Linked DNA regions of Homo sapiens. The protein of the gene in region 1 purifies or fractionates together with the protein of each later gene. This does not show direct contact. Each region holds a gene or a part of one and is shown on either strand. Other genes may lie near its edges.

The links.
Region 2: the proteins of EXOSC1 (region 1) and PTAR1 purify together in Homo sapiens (affinity purification with mass spectrometry; 2 studies listed by BioGRID and IntAct, with this or other methods). This does not show direct contact.
Region 3: the proteins of EXOSC1 (region 1) and RPS15A purify together in Homo sapiens (affinity purification with mass spectrometry; one large-scale study listed by BioGRID and IntAct). This does not show direct contact.
Region 4: the proteins of EXOSC1 (region 1) and THOP1 purify together in Homo sapiens (affinity purification with mass spectrometry, with the first as the bait; one large-scale study listed by BioGRID). This does not show direct contact.
Region 5: the proteins of EXOSC1 (region 1) and C1D purify together in Homo sapiens (affinity purification with mass spectrometry; 3 studies listed by BioGRID and IntAct, with this or other methods). This does not show direct contact.
Region 6: the proteins of EXOSC1 (region 1) and ZFC3H1 purify together in Homo sapiens (affinity purification with mass spectrometry; one large-scale study listed by BioGRID and IntAct). This does not show direct contact.
Region 7: the proteins of EXOSC1 (region 1) and WDR36 purify together in Homo sapiens (affinity purification with mass spectrometry; one large-scale study listed by BioGRID and IntAct). This does not show direct contact.

The regions. Positions count from the first base shown.
Region 1 is NC_000010.11:97,436,007-97,439,506, forward strand, and holds part of EXOSC1 (exosome complex component CSL4), read right to left. Parts: intron 2,698-3,500; coding exon 2,664-2,697; coding exon of another isoform or gene 2,657-2,663; intron 1,745-2,656; coding exon 1,694-1,744; intron 1,270-1,693; coding exon 1,185-1,269; intron 546-1,184; coding exon 439-545; 3' UTR 1-438. UniProt on the Homo sapiens protein: Non-catalytic component of the RNA exosome complex which has 3'->5' exoribonuclease activity and participates in a multitude of cellular RNA processing and degradation events.
Region 2 is NC_000009.12:69,712,019-69,715,011, reverse strand, and holds part of PTAR1 (protein prenyltransferase alpha subunit repeat-containing protein 1), read left to right. Parts: 3' UTR 1-2,993.
Region 3 is NC_000016.10:18,784,065-18,787,334, reverse strand, and holds part of RPS15A (small ribosomal subunit protein uS8), read left to right. Parts: intron 1-2,511; coding exon 2,512-2,597; intron 2,598-3,270.
Region 4 is NC_000019.10:2,792,003-2,795,502, reverse strand, and holds part of THOP1 (thimet oligopeptidase), read right to left. Parts: intron 740-3,500; coding exon 591-739; intron 1-590. UniProt on the Homo sapiens protein: Involved in the metabolism of neuropeptides under 20 amino acid residues long. Involved in cytoplasmic peptide degradation. Able to degrade the amyloid-beta precursor protein and generate amyloidogenic fragments.
Region 5 is NC_000002.12:68,053,005-68,056,504, forward strand, and holds part of C1D (nuclear nucleic acid-binding protein C1D), read right to left. Parts: intron 134-3,500; exon of another isoform or gene 57-133; intron 1-56. UniProt on the Homo sapiens protein: Plays a role in the recruitment of the RNA exosome complex to pre-rRNA to mediate the 3'-5' end processing of the 5.8S rRNA; this function may include MPHOSPH6.
Region 6 is NC_000012.12:71,629,349-71,632,848, forward strand, and holds part of ZFC3H1 (zinc finger C3H1 domain-containing protein), read right to left. Parts: intron 3,167-3,500; coding exon 2,624-3,166; intron 2,540-2,623; coding exon 2,430-2,539; intron 1,607-2,429; coding exon 1,475-1,606; intron 1,374-1,474; coding exon 1,252-1,373; intron 363-1,251; coding exon 261-362; intron 1-260. UniProt on the Homo sapiens protein: Subunit of the trimeric poly(A) tail exosome targeting (PAXT) complex, a complex that directs a subset of long and polyadenylated poly(A) RNAs for exosomal degradation. The RNA exosome is fundamental for the degradation of RNA in eukaryotic nuclei.
Region 7 is NC_000005.10:111,126,848-111,130,347, reverse strand, and holds part of WDR36 (WD repeat-containing protein 36), read right to left. Parts: coding exon 3,465-3,500; 3' UTR 1-3,464. UniProt on the Homo sapiens protein: Part of the small subunit (SSU) processome, first precursor of the small eukaryotic ribosomal subunit.

The DNA.
Region 1 (3,500 bases):
ACCTAAATGAAGGGGACGTATGTAAAGCACCTGACTCAGTGCCTAGCACAGTAAGTACTCAATAAGCAGAAGTACTGAAATGTCCTGACACCATTTAGATGTCTTTCTCTGCTTAAGACAACAGACTCTATAACATCCTTTTAGTAAAAAAGTTTTATCATAGCAAAAAATATGTATTTATAAGGACTGTCAGGAGGGATAGGCTATTTCCAATATCACAGTTTTGTTTGTTGGTGCCTTGAAAAGATAAGATTTATTACTCAAGAGAATGAAATCCACTGATAGGTTCACAGAAACATGTTCCATCTACAGCGTAAACTGGAAGATTTTTCTGGAAGTGGCTGTTGGCCGACGCCAGGTGTTTGAATAAAGACAGCAGCATCTTGGTGTTATACTCAGGAACAGCTTACCCCCTTCCATAGGGTAAAAAGTGGCTTCTTAGGTCTGCAAGAATTCGGGTTGTACTCGGGCTACTTTCCGGAATTCTTTAGTGTGGGTCTTAGGGCACTGCATCTCACACCAGCTGATGGGAACCATCTGGATACCTGGAAGGGAAAAGCTGGTGGTGGAGCCCAGACCCCAAAGATTTGCCTGCGACTCCTCTTTTATGCTGGGTATGAAGCTGAAGTGCCACCAAGCTTCCTACTGAACCTCAACTCATAAAGAAAAAACTTTGTTCATTCTACTGACTTATGAAGTGAGTCCCGTTTCCTTGGATTTATATAAGGAGAATCAGGCTGGGCGTGGTGGCTCACACCTGTAATCCCAGCACTTTGGGAGGCCAAGGCGGGCAGATCATTTGAGGCCAGGAGTTTGAGACCAGCCTGGCCAACATGGCGAAACCCTGTCTCTACTAAAAATACAAAAATTAGCTAGGTGTGGTGGCGTGTGTCTGTAATCCCAGCTACTTGGGTGACAAGAATTGCTTGAACCAAGGAGGTGGAGGCTGTGGTGAGTGGAGATGGCACCACTGCACTCCAGCCTCCTCGACAAAGTGAGACCCTGTCTCAAACAACCACCACCACCAGCACCAAGCAAAAAAGAAAAAAATAATCATTCTAATCTCAGAGGGAAATATCTATAGCCATACTGCTTCCCAGATAAGGGAAACCAGGAAAAACAATGGATTTATCCCAAACCATAGATCCAGGGAAAGTAAGGATGTGGAAACAAGGCCATCTCACCTGACTCACTGTGGGCTACCACCACTCCCAGCTCGTTCTCGGCGGTGGTTAGCAGGTAGTTGGACTGTGCATCACCTAAGGAGATCTAGTCACATAACACCGGTGAAGGAAAATGAGGAGTTAGAAGTCTTCCCCCACCTTAGCCACCTGAGTTGTTTTTCTACCTTTTTTTTTTTCTGAGATGGAGTCTTGCTCCGTTAACCAGGCTGGAGTGCGGTGGCGTGATATCAGTTCACAACCTCTGCCTCACAGGTTCAAGCGGTTCTCCTGCCTCAGCTTCCCGAATAGCTGGGATTACAGGCATGTGCCACCACGCCCAGCTAATTTTTGTATTTTTAGTAGAGACAGGGTTTCACCATGTTGTCCAGGCTGGTCTCGAACTCCTGACCTCAGGTGATCCACCCGCCCTGGCCTCCGAAAGTGCTGGGATTACAGGCATGAGCCACCACACCCGGCCTCCTTCTCTTCTTTTGACAAAGGACCAGAAGTCTGCTGGGAATAAAGGATACCACTTTGGCCAAGACAATGTCACCTGGGCGGAAACTCTTATAAATTTCAACCTGTAAAGAAAGAACAGGAATGTTAAGTGAAAGCTCTAGACTGGGTCTATATGAAACTGTGAACGCTTCTGGTAAAGCCAATCTACTTTCTAATCCTGGAGGGTAGAAATCATCATTACTCATGTCAAGTCAAGAACTTTTAATTGCTTCTACAGTATTATCATACAAATGAAAATTTTTTTTTTTTGAGATGGAGTCTCGCTCTGTCGCCCACACTGGAGTGCAGTGGTGCGATCTCGGCTCACTGCAACCTCTGCCTCCCGGGTTCAAGCGATTCTCCTGCCTCAGCCTCCTGAGTAGCTGGGATTATAGGTGCATGGCACGACACAGGCTAGTTTTTATATTTTTAGTAGAGACGGGGTTTCACCATGTTGGTCAGGCTGGTCTTGAACTCCTGACCTTGTGATCCGCCCACCTTGGCCTCCCAAAGAGCTGGGATTACAGGTGTGATCCACTGCACCCGGCCCTTTTTTCTTTTTTTTTAAGAGGTGGGATCCCACTGTGTCACCCAGGCTGGAGTGCAGTGATGCAATGGTAGCTCACTGCAGCCTTGGACTGCTGGACCAAGGGATCCTCCTGCCTCAGCCTCCCAAGTAGCTAGGACTACAGGTGCGTGCCACCACTTAACCTCAAACTCCTGGGCTCAAGCAATCCTCCAGCCACATCCTCTCAAGCAGCTGGGACTACAGGCATGAGCTACCATGCCTGGCCAATTTTTGAATTTTTAAAATTTTTGTAGAGACAGGGTCTCGCTATGTTGCCAGGGCTGGTCTTGAAGTCCTGGACTCAAGTGATCCTCCCGCCTCAGCCTCCCAAAGTACTGGGATTACGGGTGTGTGTGACCATGCCTGGCCTGAGATAATACTTTTAAGGGATTGAGATACGTAAAGCCATTAAAAAAAAAGAACCAACCAACAACCTTGTCTTTTTCAGTTGCTCGGACATCTTCCTTGCTATAAAAAAAGAATTAACAGAAAGATTAATTACCTGTGAGAAAGAATTTTTTTTTTTTTTTTTTTTGAGACAGAGTCTCCCTCTGTCACCCAGGCTGGAGTACAGTGGCGCAATTTTGCTCACTGCAACCTCCGCCTCCTGGGTTCAAGCAATTCTCGTGCCTCAGCCTCTCAAGCAGCTGGAATTACAGGCACGTCCGCCATGCCCAGCTAGTTTTTTGTATTTTTAGTAGAGATGGGGTTTCACCATGTTGGCCAGGCTGGTCTTGAACTCCTGACCTCAGGTGATCCACCCGCCTCAGCTTCCCAAAGTGCTGGGATTACAGGCATGAGTCACCTTGCCCAGCCTGTGAGAAAGAATTATTCTGTAGATTCCTAGTAAATAAAGAGCTACAAGAACAGACAGAACAAGTTGTAAATGGGACACAGCTGCTACCCAGAGGAGCAGGGTGGAGAAGCATCCTCAGACCACATGGAGAGGCAGTATCAATACCTCTGATTAGATAAAGGCAGATCGGATTTGGCAAGAAAGGATAAGGAATTTCGTTGCCTCAGGGCTTGAACAGAAGCACTATAGCAAGGGCCCCCAACTTCTGGTGGCCTGTGAGGAACCGGGCTGCATAGAAGGAAGTGAGTGGCAGGCAAGCTTCATCTGTATTTACAGCTGCTTCCCAATCGCATACATTACTGCCTGAGCTCCGCCTCCTGTCAGATCGAAGTGGGCATTAGATTCTCATAGAAGTATGAACCCTATTGTGAACTGCACATATGAGGGAGCTAGGCTGCCCACTCCTTATGAGAAT
Region 2 (2,993 bases), on another chromosome or scaffold:
TAATCATCTGAAGAAATTCTTTGATTTCAGTGACTTACTGATCTGTACCTGTGCACATATCATTTTATGCTTCTCCTTTTTTCCCCGCAACTTGAACTGTGACTCTTTCAGATATTTCTTAAATCTGTATGAGTCATTTTTTAAGCTTAGGGATTTGATATGTATTAATGTCCCCTTTGTCTTCTGTAGATTTTAGCATTTTATTACCTCTTAAGAAACTCTGGGCCCAGACTTTCAGTCATATTTCTTATTCCTATGGTACAGTTCTCACTTAAAGGCTTAATTATTAGTAGGGTTAAATATATACAGGTTATCTCTAAAAGTACTTAAATTTTTAAATAAGGGCTTATGTGATACAAGATACGGAAACAAAAGTTTTTGGATTTTTATGCAGTAGTTTGCAGGAAAGCAAATACATAGTAGATCGTATGCCACTTAGGTATGTTCAGGTCATGCCAGTTTATTCTTGTTGGGCCACACACACATGTATGTGTGTGTAAAAGGAATTTTTAGTATTGAAGCAAACAAATTGTCAGTTTAATAATTTTCTCTTACATAGCACAAGATGGCAGATACCACCTACTGTACAACAATCTAATAATCCCTACCTTAGTTCCCCTGAGTTATAGAAGATGCTAAAGATTTAGTTGTAAAGGGAAGTAACATGATTTTTTTTTTCTAAAAAGCTGTTTTAAGCTAACTATTATTTTGCTACTGGAAAATTATATTTTAAAACTTACAGATATTTAAAGTATGCTAGAAAATTTGAACCTGATAACAACTGAACCTTTTGTCTTGAATAAATTTCTCAAATAGAACTGTGCAAACCCTAGCACTTTATGTGTTGCTGCCTCCCCATACCTAGGTATGCTCTGTAATAAGCTCCCATTTAATGGAGAGATGTGTGGAGGCACTGAGAAGTTAATGAAGAAAAATCAACCCTAAGAATTCCTTATTGTCACATAGTGTCTTTTAAAAAATAACTGTAGAGACTGTGTTAATTCGAGTGCCTTTCTTACTTTTTTGGGAGCAAGATTATATTTAATGTTTAAGAAAACAGGATGGAAGTTTTATCAAACAGTTGATTGTGGCCCATTGTTTTATTTATTCCCATCGCTAGGCATGGCCCCGTAGGGTATTTTATCCTTCAGTGAGAGACTGATATAAGCAGGCAGGATGCTTTGATTATTCCATTAGTTATCATTTTAAGCACCCTACCAAGATTTAGTTCTTTCTTTCTGGCAACTAACGTTTTGGGGGTTGGAGGCATCCCATTTAGAGGATGGTGTGTGCACAAATAGATTAGCCTGAAACCTGCGTCCAAAGGGAAACAGTGGCACTCTGCCCTAAAATAAAGGCCAGAACGTTGTCCTAAATGAATCCTTTGCCTTACTTTAGGACCTTCCTTCCCTCTCAAATTCAGGCATAATGTAATATAGTTGAAAGGGGGAAAACAGTACTTGCTTTCTCTCAGGTATTGGAGGAAAAGAAGTAAATGCGTAGATGAAATTTTAAATGTATCATTTTATCTGTTTGTATATGGAGAAGGGAGGGATAGGAATTCCATATTTCAAGATAGCAAATATAATTTCATAGAAATATATAGCTAAAGATTCCAAAGTGCTTTTACAGAGAACTGTTGAATAATATATTCCTAAAGGGCAGCAATATGCCATGTTCATGGTGAAGACAGAAAACCAATGAATCAGTTGTGGATCTCAGGTGGGAGAGGAAACCTCAGGCTCCCAACTTTGACTTCTCTACTCTCACCAGGCCATGTTAACACTGTAAAACCAAACTCTTTGCTAAGAACAATACAGGGCAGTAGTTTAGTCTGCTGATGAAACCTTGTGCTTCCAAGAATATTAGCTATATATAATTTGTGCTTTCTGGATGATTCTATTGTCCAGAAAGCTAACCCTGACGTTACTTTTATTAGTCTGTTGTTATTCCTCAGGGTGTAGAAGATTTAGTAAATTCAGGACAAATTTTATATTCAGTGGCAAAAAGAAAAGGCAAAAATATGCTAAATATATTATTAGCTCTTAAATTTTAGTATAGATCGTATTTTTTATAAACTATTACCAGTACAGTAGCTAGTAGATATTCTGTGACTGCCTCATTGTTTATCTTGCTGCTTTGGTCCCTATGGCTCTAGTATGAACATTCTCGTGTCTTCTGTGGAAATGATTTCTGTGTTATAGTTCCATCTTTGGTAGAGGTGGGGATGATTGTATTTTGTTTTAGTTGACATCATTCTCAACTTTTAGAAATACTGTTGAGGAAAATGATTACCGTTGGTTTTCAAATTGACAACTATTTTGCTTCCAAAGACTTCAGTTTCCCTTTGTTTTATGTGTAGACCTCATATATGTTCAACACATTGCATACTGCCTTGCACATTGTAGGAATTCAACAAGTCAAGAGTTGATAAAAGCTAGAAAGATAAAACTAGCTTAGCTATCATATCATCATTGTCCATATTCTTAGCTTTGGGAAAAATATACCATTTTGCATAAAATACATAATCAGTTTCAAATGCATAAGGCAAAGATATACAGTTGCACAACATTGCAAGTGAAATTTACAAAGGATTTTTATTTTTGTGTATGCTAAAAGTGCTCCTACTTAAAGCAGTTTTCTTTATTAGACCAACACCTTCCAGCAAAGTTAGAAACCAAACACAAGTGCTCATTTGCCCAAATTAACCAGATAGTTATGTAAACTGTTCATATTAAGTCTTTAGTGGTTTACAAACAATAACATTCTGGCTTTTCTTCCATACCTTTTAGGAATCAGCCTTAATTTTAAGTATAGCAGTCACTTTCCTCAAGGTACTATGCAGCATACTTTAGATTGCTTATTTATCATTATAAGGTGATAGGTAATAAATTTGAGGTTTACTTGTCATATAATTTCATATGGCAGATATTGATTCAAGGAGCATTCTATTAGAAAAAGTTGATAAATTATCCTCCCTTACAAATATCATC
Region 3 (3,270 bases), on another chromosome or scaffold:
AAATGGAAAAGAGGGATGAGGAAGGGGCCTTACTGGCCCAACTAGAAACAGAAACTAAGAACCCATGACTGTATTCTCTCCCTTGGACACCCCTGTGTTTATTGCAACAGATAGGGGGGAAAGAGACCCAGAAGGTGAGTTGCTGAAGTATTTGTTAAAGATTTGAAGAACTAGCTGGGCACAGTGGGTCACGCCTGTAATCCCAGCACTTTGGGAGGCTGAGGCAGGCGGATCACGAGGTCAGGAGTTTGAGACAAGCCTGGCCAACATGGTGAAACCCTGTCTCTACTAAAAATAGAAAAACTAGCCAGGCGCAGTGGCGGGCGCTTGTAATCCCAGGTACTCCGGAGACTGAGGCAGGAGAATTGCTTGAACCTGGCAGGCGGAGGTTACAGTGAGCTGAGATCGCACCACTGCACTCCAGCCTGGGTAACAGGGCAAGACTCCCTAAGATTTGAAGAACTTGCAAGGGTAATTTTCAGTATGTCATGTTTTGTTCTAGTTGTAGCCATTAGAACCCCACCTCAAAATAGGATTGATTTATTTTTATTTATATTTCTTTTGAGATAGTCTTGCTCTGGTTGAGGCTGGAGTGCAGTGGCGCCATCTTGGCTCACTGCAGCTTCCCTAGCTCAAGCCATCCTCCCACCTCAGCCTCCTGAGTAGCTGGGGAATACAGGTGCATTCCACTGTGACTGCTGATTTTTCTTTAACTTTTTTGTAGAGGTGGGGTCTCGCTATGTTGCTTAGGTTTGTCTTGGACTCATGGGCTCAAGTGATCCTCCCACCTCAGCCTCCCAGAGTGCTGGGATTACAGGTGTGAGTCACTGGGCCCAGCCGAGAAATAAATTTGAACAGAGCATTCTGTAAATGGAACTTATTTGTGGCACCCTTGTTCTGTGGTATGCTAGTTTGAAAAATTCTAGCCTACAACAGTTGATATGCAGGCCCTGCTGCTCTCTGCCCGTTTTTTGAGACGGAGTCTCACTCTCACCCAGGTTGGAGTGCAGTGGCACGATCTTGGCTACTGCAACCTCTGTCTCCCAGGTTCAAGCGATTCTCCTGCCTCAGCCTCCCTAGTAGCTGAGATTACAGGTGAGTGCCACCATGCCCGGCTAATTTTTGTATCTTTGGTAAAGACGGGGTTTCGCCATGTTGGCCAGGCTGGTCTGGGACTCCTGACCTCAGGTGATCCACCGCGCCTGGCCTGTTCTGTGACTTTCGACAAAGCAAACAATTTTTGGTTTCTTGGAATTTCATTTCTCCCCATTTAAAAGAGAACGTCCCCCTCCATCGCTTTCATGCAAGACATGGACCTACCCTTAGCGTGGAAATTGAGCTTGGAAGTAAGGTAGTGTGTAAAGACTAGATTGATTAAAATTCTGGCCTTGATCACATCCTCTTACGATTCTTCTGGGTTGGGGGAGGGTATGCTGTTTTAATTCTACCAGAATGAGAAGAATTTTTGCTGCTGGAATCAACATAAAACTTGGATGCAGCGTGCGGCAGACTTTGGAAAGATCTTTCACTATAGCTTGCTTGGATAAAACTGGTTTTCCCATATTCCTATCCCTGCATTTCTTTCATCTGCCGTGAGATTGTCCTTGTTAGTCAAGTCACAGCATAGCTGATGGGGTAATAGTAGGAGAACTTAAGCAGGCTTCCTGGCGTAGAGCAGTTGGGCCTTTCTGACAAGCCCATTTTCAGTTTCTGTGGGTCAATCTCTGCTTTTGGAAGTGTTTTTCAAGTGTGCCTGTGATTTTAGAGCAGATTTTGTGAGCAGAGGGTCTTCAGTTAGTGGACATCAGTTAGTGGACTTTCTTCAGTAGTGTTTTAGGGCTGGCATGTAGTTGAGTGATGGCAGCCCTTGGCGAGCTTTTACTTGGGAGGATCATTGTTGCCATGTCCCAGTAGCCACGAGATGAGATAATTGCAGGCCCTTTGCTCTTTCTGCCTTCCATCATTCTGTCAGATTTGTTTGGAAAAATTTGTCTGGGGCTGTAGGACATTGTTTCTTGGAAATATGTAACGGTACTTCATTGGTGGGAGCAGCGTTCTTAGTTCAGTGCCTGGACAGCGTGTTCCTTAGATATTCTAATAATTTGTAGAGCTTCAGGATTTGAGACCCTATGATTTTATTTCAGCCTTATTATGTAAGAAAGGGTTGGCTGTAGTCTCTCTTGTCGAGACTTGATCTCTAGGCTATGTAAAATCTGATCATCCTGGACAGCTCTCCAGCCAACAGGGAGCACGCCAGTGGCCTGACACTGCCATGTATTGCCTTGTTCCATCTCTTTGCATGCCTTTGCTTTTTCTCCTAGGCAGGCGTAGTCTTACTTAGGTGTATTTTTTGAAAAGTATGTCAAGCATTGTGCACAGAATAAGTACCCATCTGAATGCTGGGTTGGTTGGTTTGGAGGACTGTTTATTTATGAATGTCATCTTGTGTTACTCAGTTTTTCTGTTATTGGTAAAGTGAAGAATGTTTTTGTTGTTGTTGTTATTTTATAGTGTGGGGTGATCAGCCCCAGATTTGACGTGCAACTCAAAGACCTGGAAAAATGGCAGAATAATCTGCTTCCATCCCGCCAGTTTGGGTAAGTTGGCCTTTCCTTAATTAAAAGAAGTTAATGCTAAGAATTTCTGTGGTGCAGTTTGACTTAAGGGTTTTTTTCTTTTTTTCTGTTTAAAACAAAGCAGTGGTAATTTGTCTACTCTTAACCATTTTGACCTAATAGCTCAAGTGTTATCCATATTTCTTTTCTCTCTCTTTAAAAAGAGACAGGGTTGGCCAGGCACAGTGGCTCACGCCTGTGATCCTAGCATTTTGGGAGGCTGAGGCAGGCGGATCACCTGAGGTTGGGAGTTCGAGACCACCCTGACCAACATGGAGAACCCCGTGTCTACCTAAAATACAAAATTAGCCAGGCCTGGTGGCACACACCTGTGATCCCAGCTACTTGAGAGGCTGAGGCAGGAAAATAGCTTGAACCCGGGAGAGAGGTTGCGGTGAGCTGAGATTGTGCCATTGCACTCCAGCCTGGGCAACGAGTGAAACTCTGTCTCGAGAAAAAAGAGAGAGAGACAGGGTTTCACTTTGTTGCCCAGGCTGGAGTGCAGTGGCTGTTCACAGGTGCGGTCATAACACGCTACAGCCTTGGCTTCTTGGCCTCGAGCAGTCCTCCCCGCTCAGCCTCTTGTGGATTTGGGAATACAGGCGCCTGCCACCGTGCCTGGCTATTTGCCACATTTCATGTGTTGAGCTTCAGG
Region 4 (3,500 bases), on another chromosome or scaffold:
ACACATCAGCACATTCCCAGGGGTCCTCGCCTAAGAGGATGAACAGCAGCAGGAGGGTCTCTGGGTCTCTCCTGATCATGTGACATCAACAGCAAAGGCCCCACTGCATACTGCGAGGAGCATCCGGGGGAGCAGGAGCCCACGCAGCCATGCCGCCAGGCCCTGCCAGCTCACGCCATGTGGGGATGGGGTGTTTGGGTCACACTAGGATGGCCAGGAAAGGAAATGAAAGTGCACATGTGTGGCCGGGCGTGGTGGCTCAGGCCTGTGATCCCAGCACTTTGGGAGGCCAAGGCGGGCGGATCACCTGAGGTCAGGAGTTTGAGAACAGCCTGACCAACATGGCAAAACCCTGTGCCTACTAAAAATACAAAAAATGGGCCGGGCACAGTGGCTCACACCTGTCATCCCAGCACTGTGGGAGGCCGAGGTGGGCGGATCACTTGAGGTCAGGAGTTCGAGACTAGCCTGACCAACACGTTGAAACCCCGTCTCTACTAAAAATACAAAAATTAGCCGGGTGTGGTGGCGGGCGCCTGTAATCCTAGTTACTTGGGAGGCTATTTGCACTCCCCGCAGGGCCCCCTCACCTGGAGCCACACGATCCTCTGGTACACGTCCTCCCTCATGCTCATCTCCACGTCGAACTCAGAGAGCTTCTTGTCGGCCTCTGTGCTGGCTGTCCGGATGTCCTTGGAGGGGGAAACATGCTGGGGGAAGTCAAGGATATTCCTCTGAACTAAAACAGGGGAGACCAGGGAGACAGGTGTGAGAACAGGCCCCAGTACAACTGGCAGGTGTTGCCCGGACCCCTCTCCCAGGCCTGTCTGCTGAATCCCCCCGTGAACTCTCTCCTGCCTCAGCCTCCCAAGTAGCTGGGACTAGAGGCACACGCCACCGTCCCCTCCAGGCTGGGCCCTGGGATGGAGAAAGGAGGTGCTGTTGCCTGTGTCCTTGGAGATCTTACAGACCGAAGAAAAATAAGGATTCAACTCAAAGCCCTCCAAGCCAAGGAGGACCCAACAGAGCTGGGTACGACGAAACAGAGGCTGACGGAATTCCATTCCAGAGAGAGCTGCAGCTGCCGATGGTCACATTTAAATGCATAAACTACTTACAATTTCCTGAGCACATCTGTGCTTTAGGTTGAGTAGAGGAAGTGTCAGTGGCTAGAAAAGCATAAGCTTTAGGCCAGGTGTGGTGGCCAAGCCTGTAATCCCAGCCCTTTGGGAGGCCGAGGCAGGCAGATCACTTGAGGTCAGGAGTCCGAGACCAGCCTGGCCAACAAGGTGAAACCCCATCTCTACTAAAAATACAAAAATTAGCCAGGCGTGGTGGCGCGTGCCTGTAATTCCAACTACTTGGGAGGCTGAGGTAGGGGAATAGCTTGAACCCGGGAGGTGGAGGTTGCAGCGAGTTGAAATGGTACCACTGCACTCCAGCCTGGGCGACAGAGTGAGGCTCCATCTCAAAAAAGAAAAAAAAAGAAAAAAAAAAAAGCTTTAAAATGGAGTCATCCCATGACCCCCAAGACTCCAGTGCCAGGATCCAGCCAGGAGACATGAACACACATCCACACAGGAATCTGCACACGTGCACTCACAGCAGCGCGATTCACAATTGACAAAAGGTCCATCCACGAGTGAATGGACTGACAAGATGTGGCCTCTGCCCAGTGGAACACGACTCAGCCATGAAAAGGAATGAGGCTCTGGAACAGGCTGCGGTGTGGATGCAGCCCGATGATGTCACATGCAGAGAAAGAAGCCAGACACAAAAGTCACACAGTGTGTGATGCCATTTGTTTTTTTTTGAGACGAAGTGTCACTCTGTTGCCCAAGCTGGAGTGCAGTGGTGCAGTCTCGGCTCACTGCAACCTTCAACTCCTGGGTTCAAGCGATTCTCCTGCCTCGGCCTCCCGAGTAGCTGGGATTACAGGTACCCACCACCACGCCCAGGTAATTTTTGTATTTTTAGTAGAGATGGGGTTTCACTATGTTGGCCAGGCTGGTCTTGAACTCCTGACCTCATGATCCATCTGCCTCGGCCTCCCAATGTGCAGGGATTACAGGCATGAGCCACTGCACCCGGCCATGTGGTGCCATTTCTACGAAATATCCAGGACAGGCCCATCCACAGAGACAGGAGGGGACGCGTGGGTGCCAGGGCTGGGGACAGGGGAGATGGAGCGTGACCACTTAAGGGTATAAAATTTCTCTCTGGGGTTATGAAAATGCTCTAAAATGAAAGAATGGTAACAGCTGAGCAATGCTGCAAATTTATTAAAAACCACTGAAGTGTGTGGGTTTTTTTTTGTTTGTTTGTTTGAGACAGAGTTTCGCTGCTGTTGCCCAGGCTGGAGTGCAATGGTGTGATCTCGGCTCACCGCCACCTCCGCCTCCCGGGTTCAAGTGATTCTCCTGCCTCAGTCTCCCGAGTAGTTGAAATTACAGGCATGCGCCACCACGCCCGGATAATTTTGTATTTTTAGTAGAGACAGGGTTTCTGGATGTTGGTCAGGCTGGTCTCGAACTCCTGACCTCAAGTCATCCGCCCACCTCGGCCTCCCAAAGTGCTGGGATGACAGGTGTGAGCCGCCACCCAGCCTGAAGTGTGTGGTTTAAATGGGTGAACTGTATGTTATGCAAATCATATCTCAATGGAGCAGTTTAAAAAAACAAATTAGCCAGGCACGGTGGCACACACTTGTGCTCTCAGCTACTTAGAAGGCTGAGGCAGGAGGATCGCTTGAGCCTGGGAGGTTGAGGCTGCAGTGAGCCATGACAGCACCATGCACTCCAACCTGGGTGACAGAGCGAGACTCATTCTAAAAAAACAAAAAACAAACAAAAAAAAACCCTAATAATAATAATTTTTTTTAAAAAAAAGCATATACTTTGCAGCAGAAAGACCTGAATTCAAATTGCAGTCTGGCCACTACCTCAGTTCTGGGTCAACAGAAATGTCCCCAGGCCTCGGTATGTTTGGAGGAGGCTCCGCACGTCTGGAGGAGGCTCCGTGTGTTTAGAGGGGGGGTGGGCTGGGCACGGTGGCTCATGCCTGTAATCCCCACACTTTTGGAGGCCAAGGCAGGCAGGAAGCTTGAGCTCAGGAGTTCTAGACCAGCCTGGGCAATATAGCAAGACCTCATCTCTACCAAAAATTAAAGATGGCTTGAGCCTGGGAGATGGAGGCTGCAGTGAGCCATGATCACACTACTGCACTACAGCAGCCTGGGTGACAGAGCAAGACCCTGTCTCAAAAAAACAACAAAAAAGCCTGTAGTGGGGGCTCTGGGCCAGGCCTGACGCTAGGGCTGAAGACAGAAAGAAAATCAGCTCTGTCCTCTCGGGATTTACGGGCGACCGATTAGACAAGTGACCGCAGGGACGACAGTGTCAGTACCGTGCAGGGACTAATCCAGGCAGCTGGCATGGGGACAGGAGGAGGAGGAAGGGCTCCTGGGCGAAGTGGACTTAATCTGTGATCAGAGAGAAGCC
Region 5 (3,500 bases), on another chromosome or scaffold:
AAAGAACATGCCTAAAGTTGTACATGTTAAAATTTCCAAAGAAGAAAAGAACTCACCCAGCTCTGCTCCTCACCCTCCTCCGGGGTTCTATAGGTACTCCTTGCCCTTCCACATACTCCTTCTAAAACACTGGCTGCAGAGGTAGAGACAGACGGAGAGGGCATGAGAAAACTTGCTTCTCTTCACCACTCAGTAAGGTGTGGCTGAGACTGAGTACCTGGGTTGCGGGGATGCTGCCCAGTAACCCTAACAGATGTTACTGCCACTCAGTCCTTCCTCTCACTGGTTATACAGAAGCCAAAGTACCGATAGGAGAAAACAAGAGTGCATAGCATCACATACAGAACTGAAGTCATCAGCTACCTCTTTCCTTTAATTCTCCACTTCAGGGTGGCCAATCCAGGCAGAAACCTGGGAGGCACCCCAAATCCAATCAGTCCTGTCAATATGGCTCCCTTAATCTCCTTACACCACAAGCTTTCCTCTATTCTCACTGACTAGATTATTTCAACAGCCTTTGAGTAGTGTCCCTATTATCAATTTTTCTCCACTCCCAGTTTTAGAATATTACAAAATATGCTTTAAACAGTCTGGTCATGGTACTCCTCTGTTTAAAATTCTGCAACAGTTCCCTCCCACATGGAAGACAGTTCCAAACCCCTCAGCGTAGATGCAAGGCCCATTATGATGTGGCCCTTGCTTGTCTGCCTAACCTCATCTTTCATGGCTCCCCTCTTCCAATCCTAGAGCTGTGGCCATGATGGCAGTTTTCCAAATGTGCCGTGCTCTCTCACTCTCAACTTTCACCTGTGTGATTCTCTAAGCCTGAAATGCCCTTCCAACTCCACTTTTTTCAAACGCTGCTTATCTTTGGAGGTAAAAAATAGGTTCCAGTTCGGCCAGTGAAGACTTCTCTGCATGCTCTCCTTCTATGCTCTCTGTCTGGACAAATACAACAACTATAAGCTGTCATGTCACTTAAAACACTATCTCTTAATGTATTTTTATTTACTTGACTTCTCCTTTGACTACATGCTCCTTGAGGGGCTGTGTCATATTCATGTTGTATCCCCAGTGGCTGACACACAAGGTGACTATAACTCTCAATTTGCCCAAGACAGTTCCACCTTACGCCTGTTGTTTCAGCTTGCCATCAACTCAGCTCCTTTCTTTCTCAGAAGTCCCAGTTTGAACAAAAAATTATATGGCTACCCTAAACAATGCAAGTTCTCTGACCCTTACTACCGCTTCCCATCCCATTTAGCTGGAGAACAGAAGCATCAGAGGAGTTACCCTTTGCACCAGTCAGGTTTCAACTAGAGAAGCAGAACCAGTAGGAGATATATATTAAGAGAGTTATGGCAAGAAACTGGTTTACATAGGGCAGGCTATGAAGGGAGGAACTCATGCTGGAACTCTTGGCTACTAGCTGAAACTGCTGTCTACAAGTGGAATTTCTTCTTTTTTGGAAGGAAAACCTCAGCTCTGCTTCTAAAGCCTTTCAACTGATTGAATCAGGCCCACCCAGATGATCTAGAATAATCTCCCTTACTTAATTGATTATGGATTTTAATCATAGCTTCAAAATACTTTCACAGCAACACCTACATTCATGTTTGACTAAATATCTGGGGGCTACAGCCAAACCAAGTTGAAACATTAAAAAGACAATCACAGCCAGGCACCATGGCTCACATCTGTAATTCCAACACTTTGGGAGACTGACAGGAGGATCACTTGAGCCCAGGAGTTCAAGATCAACCTGGGAAACACAGACAGACCCATCTCTAAAAAAAAAAAAAATATTTTTAATTAGCTGGGCGTGATGGCATACACCAGTAGTCCTAGCTACTCAGGAGGCTGAGGTGAGAGAATCACTTGAGTCTAGGAGTTCGAGGCTGCAGTAAGTTATGATTACACTACTGCACTCCAGCCTGGGCAACAGAGCAAGGCCCACATCCTTTCTTTTTTTTTTAAAAAAAAAAAAAAGACTATTGCACTAAGATGCATTCCTAGCATCAAAAATATTGTTGCTCTGACAATACTTTCCCACAACAAGCTTATTTTGATTATCAGGTTCCCAAGTAACAGAACTAGACTTCAAATTCTAGCTAACAAATGTAGAAGAAATGACAACTTAAAAAAGAATCACGACTTTGCAACGCCTAATGAAATTGTAGGTTTAGTCAATGACCACCAACAGATCACTAAAAGTAGGTGAAATGCACATATTATGAACCTCCTGATGTGAGGCAATATAACATACACAGCACCATCTGCAAAGCATTCCCAACTCCCAAAAAAGCTGAATCTGAACAATTAAGCCTACAGAGCTAACTTCCATTTTATAGGAAATCCAAAGGATAGAGGAACAAATTAACACCACAAGAAAGCAAACAAATATGGAGTGAGAAATACAGTACTCTACAGGATAACTGACCAGGTTTCCATAACAAGTCAACAGCATGAAGCAAAAAAAAAAAAGTGGGGGAAGAAAGACAGAGGAAGAAGAGATTTAAGAGATGTAACAACCAAATGAAATACACAGACCTTGTTTGGATCTTGATTCAAATAAACCAAGTGGAAAAAGATAGTTCTGTGAGAAAGAAATCTGAACATGGACAAAGTACTAGATGACACCAACAAATTATTGATAATTCTGTCATCTATGATAATAGCAATACAGTTATATAAGAAAATTTCCCTGTCTTTTGAGGATGCACACTGAAGTATAGAGGGGTAAAATTATGTAACATTTTGAATTTGCTTAAAAAAAAAGTAGCCTCCACAAATTATTACAACTTTGAGAGCAAAGATAAGAACCTATGTACATTATTTCTATAGTGAAATTAGATGGCTAACTCACAAACTAGCTTTTAGAATACAACTCCGTTCATATATAGGAGAATAACTAAAGAGAAGGTGTCGTCTAGAATATTTAAGCAGCTCCATTACATCTCATTTCAATTCCAAATATAACTGGAGTGAGGGAGAGGAAGGTTACTGGGTGCTCACTACATCTGTGATAGTTGCTGAACATATAGTCTCAAATGAAGTTTGTATTACTAACATTTCCAACAAAAGGCTCACATTCTAGAGTGTCTATTTATTTCAAGAGTATCACAAAAATCCTTTTGAGACAGAGTCTTGCTGTCTCGCCCAAGCTGGAGTGCAGTGGCTCAATCTCAGCTCAACGCAACCTCTGCCTCCCAAGTTCAAGCAATTCTCCTGCCTTTTACAGGTGCGTGCCACCATGCCCAGCTAATTTTTGTATTTTTTTAGGAGAGACGGGGTTTCACCATGTTGGCCAGGCTGTCTCGAAATCCTGACCTTGTGATCTGCCCACCTCAGCCTCCCAAAGTGCTGAGATTACAGGTGTGAGCCATCGAGCCCAGCAAATTCCCTTCTTTAAAAAAAAAATCCTAATTTCTTGTATTTTTACCTGGCCCTTAAAAATGCAGGCAAAATAAACAAATAAACAAACACCCAAGACTAATGTC
Region 6 (3,500 bases), on another chromosome or scaffold:
TAGAGACGGGGTTTCACCATGTTGGCCAGGCTGGTCTCGAACTCCTAACCTCAAGTGATCAGCCCACCTCAGCCTCCCAAAGTGCTGGGATTACAGGCGTGAGCCAGCGCACCCAGCCTGGAATGATATGTATTACATTAAGAACATAATACCAACAAAATTTCTGTCATACAGAAACTAAAAAGTCCTTTTCAGAAAGAGATACAGTACACACACACACACACACACACACACACACACACACTTATATATGTACTTACTATGACCTTTACTTTCATTGATATTGCTAACAAGGAGAACAGCCATCTGGTCCATTGACATTCGATCTTTGTTTACTCCAAAAAGTTTCTCAACATATTTTTCTGAAATAAGAGCAATGCAATCTTCATGATAAATATCAATTACAGAGACTAGGATAATTAAAATGTATGACGTGAACTAGTTTAAGAATTAAAGGCGATTATATGGTACTAGTCAATAACACCTATGGCATTTGAAAGGGCAAAGCCTGTATTATCTTAACTACTATGGCAAATCCTACCACATCATATACCCCATTTGGGATTAAAAAAAAAAAAAAGTAGTTCCTAAAATGAACTAAGTAATTAAGTTAAAGTCCCAAATTGGGAGCGATAAAATAGATTCAGTGACATTACAATCACTCTGGGCTGTGATAACACCAAATTTAGTAATTATTATTTTCTTTACTTCCAAAAGATTTGTAGCTTGAGGTTTATTACTTGGCACCAAATCTGAGAAAAAGCTTAATAATATTTGCTCACAAGTGTATCAAGTCTTATTTCATTATAGAATTGGAAACAACAGCCATCGTAATTTCCAGCCTTCCTCTATTTTTTGAAAACAATAAGTAAAAATAGGCTCCTATGTTAAAATCAATAGTAAAGTTTCTATACAAATAGCTTAATATTTTCTTTTAAATAAATGGAACTAAATATTTAAATGAGCTCTGTCCAAAGAACTTTCTGAAATGTTGGAAATGTCTTAAATCTGTGCTGTCCTACTGGCATGCACTTGCCACATGTGGCCATTGGGTACTTGAAATGTGGCTAGTGTAACAGAGGAAGTAAATTTTTACCGTAATTATACTGGATACAGCAAATCTAGATAAAGTATTATGGGTAAATACACTGAATTATAGTAAGTATTTTACAATGTCAACAACTAATATAGAATTTTTAAGTTGCCTAAATTCAATTTTCATTTGGGAGAGAATAGGAAGTCTTTAAAAACCTGCTGAAGCAGTAATTTCTTCATTAGTACTTGTCTCTGCACAACCAATCAAAGACAGATTATATGACAGAATGTCCTGGAATAACTGTTTTCGGCTAAGTGTATAGTCTTGTATATGCTGCCTAAGATAAAAAAAAACACAGAAAAGATAATCATGTACATATCAAAGTTAAGCAAACAAGACCATTTTTCAAATTACAAAATGTTCACAAAAACTACTCACCATTGACAATCATCATCATTACATGTTCCTGTTAAATCAAAACGGCAGAAACACTGATCCGGTTCAATCATATTACTGTATGATACTGAGCTCAGGGGAAGTTTTTCCTTGGTTCGATAATATGGACTAAATCTAAGGTGAAGAGAGTGAACAGGTATATTATGCCCAACAAACATTCCTCAGAAAACTAAGAAAACTTTAGTTTTTCTTTCTCAAGTTAAAATTTCCATGCTTACTATTTATGAGCTATTTATCTAATTAAATTAATGCCAAAATTAATTCGAGAAAAGACCTAGAATATCAAGGGATAGAAACAAGTTGCTTTTATACCAAGAACATAAAATAGTTTAAACAGAAAAAAAACCTTGTATTCTAAAAGTAGTTTCTCACCACATAATAAAATACTATATAATACCGGTATTTCTTACACACATTACCAGCCAAGACAAGAAAATCTGGAAAAAGTCTATATTACCTGGAAGGTGCTTTACAATTTTAAGATAAAAACATGCAACCCTTTAACATTCTCACAACTTTTAAAAGTCTAAATGGGGGACCCACAAAGTTAATCATATGAAAATGTCTAAATAAATTTTATGAAGGCTGGCCAATGCACTTCTTAGACTGAATAACAGTAAAATTAAAAATCAAAAATTAAAAAAAACCTCTAAGATTCCAATTATTTTTCCTAAAATTCCTAACAAACAGAAATCCAAAATTCTCCACACTTCTACCAATAGCCAGAAACTGGAATTTGATACGAACTGATAAATCCAAGAGTGTGGTTTGAGCCCAACGGCAGGACACTTAATTTTTATGTTCCTTAAAAGGGTAAGTCTGGTTATCAATAGCAATGATTCAATTGCTTTTTCATTATCATCAAATATTCAAGATAAAATATTAAAAACCAAACAGAAATCCTGAAATTCAAGCTTATTGAATCTTTCTTTTATACCTGTAGGACTTAAAAACTAGAAGAGGACTATGGTAGGGTCTAAAAGGACATGGCTTCACTTCCATTGTTTTACTTTGTGCTGTGACAAAATCCACATCTACAGAAATCTCCTGCAAAAGAAAATAATAATTCTGTAAGGCAAATAAGGCTGGGTGAATTCCAGATTTTAAAGAAAATATGAAATGTTCAGTTACCTGACCATGCAAAACCTTCTCTGTAATGCCTGTGGTGGTTTTTAAAATCAGCTGTTTTAGGCTGTCAGCTTTTGAATACAATTTTTGCAATTCACCAATTTTTAACCCTAGAAAAAGTTCTGGTTTTTCTACAGTATTTTTATTAAGTTTGTTTATGCATTCTTTGTTAGCAGTATCAGTGTGCTTAAGGTTAGGTTTAGTAAAATAATTGGATTCTAAAAAAGATCTTCTTCGCTCTCTGCTTGAACCAGACAAAATTTCATCATCAACATCATTTTCTTCAGTGTCCAGGGTTAATTTATCTTGTGTCAGATCATGAAGTGAGGGTTGAGGTAAAGAAAATTCGGGTTCCTCTTCCACAACTGGAGAGATATTTTGTTGTTCCTTTGCTTTAAGGGCACGGGCTTCTTTTAATTTTTGAATTTTCAGGGCATATTCATATTCTAGCTTTTGTAACCGTCTTTTCTCCATAGCAATTAGTTCTGCTGAATGCTTTCTTGGACTTGATACTGGAGAACTGTCCAGTCTCATCATTTTGTTTGGCTAAGGGAGAAAAATGATACACGTATTTTACATCACTGTGATTTTATAAACAATTTTTGGTAAGATAATTGTGCTATCCCCACCATACAATGCCAACATTATAAAACTAAATCAATATGGAGAATAAAACAGAGTTTAACATAAGTAGCCAAAAGTTTTGCTAGTTAATCTATGACTTATGACAAAAACAAAGTCAAGACAAAATAATAAAGTAGACATCCAAAAATGTGGATGTCATTTAAAAACAAAGCTTTAATCTTAATCTCTTGGAATTTACAGCAAAGAGTTACTTTATATATACATCTTACCCTTAAAACTATCATAAAAACTTTCT
Region 7 (3,500 bases), on another chromosome or scaffold:
ACTTATATGCAAACTTTTTTCAACCAAACACAAATAAAACATATGGTATTTGAGGGATGCAAAACCCTCAAATACAAGGACCGACTTTTCATATGCATAGGTCCCATGATCTGCAGGGCATTGCTTGGATTTTGGTATCCACAGGGGTCCTGGAACTAGATACCAAGGGAGGACTGCACTCGGTATTGTCGGTCTCTCCAAATCAGTCCTATAAATGTTGTGCAACCCATATCAAAACTTCAAGAGATGTGCTCACCAGCAGTTAACCAATTTTTATAGAACATGAGGAAGGCTTTACCCAAATCTGAGAACATACCAAAGTAATGCATCATTTACTAGGAATATGGAAGAGCTCAGTGAAAGAATTTAACACATAATGAAACAGCATTTCAAATCAGACATATGAGTGGACTTTTCAATAAATGAATTTTGAACAGATATTGGAAGCAGCGCTGTTTCACTCTTCAGAAAAATCAATTCTAAAGATCTACATGTTAACTACTCACACAGAAACATGTCGTAGAGGAAAATACATGACGTGAAATGAGCACATGTAAACATAGGAAAACATACACTGTAAATGTCTTAGAAAATAATTTGCTTTATATCCTGAAATAAGTCATGAAAATTAATCAATTTGATTGTATACAAATATAAAACATTTATTTAAACAGACACCATGTAAAATTAAAGCCAAATGGCTAAGTAGGAGAAAACATTGGCAACAGACATAAAATACAGAAAATACAAGAGAACTCCTAACAAATCCATGAGATAAAAGGACAAATCATTCAATAGAAAAATGAGAGGAAAAAGAAAATTAACAAATGTTTATATGTTCTAAAATAAACATACAAAAATATGTCCATCTTCACTAGTGAGAAATTTCTGATTTAAAACCAAAATAATTTTTTCAGAGTAATTAAATTACAAAAATCCAATAGCAAGTGTCATTAATTACATGGGGAAGCAGATGCTCATATCTTGCTCAGGGGAACTGTAACTTGATACAGCCATTCTGGAACCCAAATGGAAGTATCTCTTCAAATTAAAAATGGTTATACTCTGGCCTGAAATTCAAATCCTAAGCATATACCACAGAGAGAGCCTTATATGTACAAAAAGGGCTCATGTAGGATGATGTTCCTTTCAGCATTGTTTGTAATTATAAAGGAATAAAAAGAAGGAAAACTTCCTTAAGTGTCTATTATAGGCAAAGTACTGTTGGACAGTGCACAAGAGATTAGGTAAATGTGAATGTACCAAAATAAAAAACTCCCAAGTAGAAATAGCAAGTTGTACAATAATATACATACACGTATGTAAAAATCGTAACTATACATTTCCTGTGGCTGTAGATAATATATACACATTCCTACATTAAACACTCATAAAAACACTCTAAAAGAAGATCTAGGAGAGTTAAAACTATTACTTCTACAGAGGATATTGGGACTGAAGATGGTTTTCAAAAAGCACACAAGCAAAATGTAGTCATATATTACATGAGTAATTAAAAAACTGAAAGAGTGTGCACAGATTGATATATTTTAAGGAAAATATAGATAAAATTATATTTTCTATTTCTTTCCCTCCCTTGATGGAAACAGTACATGAAAGGTTCTAGAAGATTACCTGCCAAAATGATGTATTCTATCTAAATATATCTCTGGTAACAATACACTTAAGTCTTTATGCTCACTTTAAAAAGAGAAGAAAATTCGGTTCATGATTTCTGTAAGCAATACAATTTCAGTTCACAGCTCTTATCATTTTGTTTTAGTTATTTACAATCTTTACTAGGTATAGAATTATATATTGGGATTTTGCCATATTCCAATTTAGAATATAGTATTTAGGAAAGAGGAAAATAGTTTTTTAAATTAGAACTTAAGTCATGATTAACATTTCTGTCAGTGGCTTTAATAAGTCAATACACATTTCTAAAAGAAAAACGAAATTGAGTACAATAACCACATTGGCTTATTTCCTTAGTAGTTTATTAATTCTATCTTACATCATTAAATAAAAACATGAATATTAAAAGATATCACTGGTAAATGCCTTTTGAGGACTGCTTCTTTTGGAGATCATTCTACAAAACTCTCTTACCCTAACAACGAACGAGAATGCTACTGGTGTTCATATTCAAACCACTGTGTTTCATGAAAGACCCAACTTTTGAGGGTATAAACTAAGAATAGTTTTTAGAGCGCTATGCTTTAAAGAACTGCTTATTTTTAATTCATGTATTGCAAAAGTCTTGAACCATAAAAAAAACAAAACAATGATGATGAGAAAAAAAGAAAACTCCAGGGCTACCTGGGTTTGCAATGGTTGTGAAAGAAAAGTATACTCAGCATTTTCTTCCCAAATTAAAAGGTCCCCCCCAAAAAAGTGTAGCCAAAAAAAAAAAAAAAAAAACAAAACAAAACAAAATAAAAAAAACCCTGGCTTTGAAATACCCATTCTTGGCTGTGGTAGCAATAAACAATATTGCTAAAAATTGTTTGCAAGGATTTATGGAATTTTTACCTTTTCAGAGGACATTAAACTATTGTTATCTACATGTCTGCAGTGTCAGTAAAAGGCCATCTTCCAATGGAATTTGGAATTTCCCTTACCTATCCTTGGTATCAGTTTAACCATCTACAGCGACTTGCCTTGGGCAAGGAAGGGCCTCCCACATTTCTGATCCATGAACAACTTCCTTTCAGTACATTACAATGGAGAAAGCACTAGGCCACTGTTAGAAAGTTTTAATCTGTCACTGAAATACCAGCAGACTTTAGCCTGATTCCTCTCCTGCAACACAACAGGGCTGTGCTAGAAGATGATTAGTTTATCCTCCAACTCTGAGAGTCAATCATTCATATTTTTATCAAAGGCCACCGAGGAAAAAAGCATTCCTTTTTTCTTCATAACAGCATTTTTATAACTACATCATGTATCAGTTTTATCTGACATTTTCAATTTAATTCAGCAATACTTCACAGTGAACATGCAGCATCTCTTTATATGAAACAGATACTCAAAAAATATAAGCAGGTAATAATTTTTTAAAAATCATATAAAAGTTAATGTGAAGAGACTCAGAAAATAAATCATTTGAGCAGATTCTTTAAGTCTTCAAAACAAAAGGCAGGTGTAATTTATTTTTTTAACTTTTTGTAGAGATGGGATCTTGCTTGCTATGTTGCCCAGGCTGGGCTCAAATTCCTGGCTTCAAGCAATCCTCCCGCTTTGGCCTCTGAAAGTGCTGGAATTACAGGCATTATCCATCATGCCTGGCCGGGAGGTGCGATTTTATTTCAAGAAAGTATTTAGCATTTAAAGTGGAGATATACTGACTAGTCAGTAGTGCTAGCATTTATTTTCTTTTCACATTGACACTTGGAAAATAAGAAATGAGTTCAATTGAACCCATTTAATATGAAAGTCTTTGTTTAGTCACAAATTTATTTTTACAACAAAGCACTTTTGAGATAATTTAAAATACA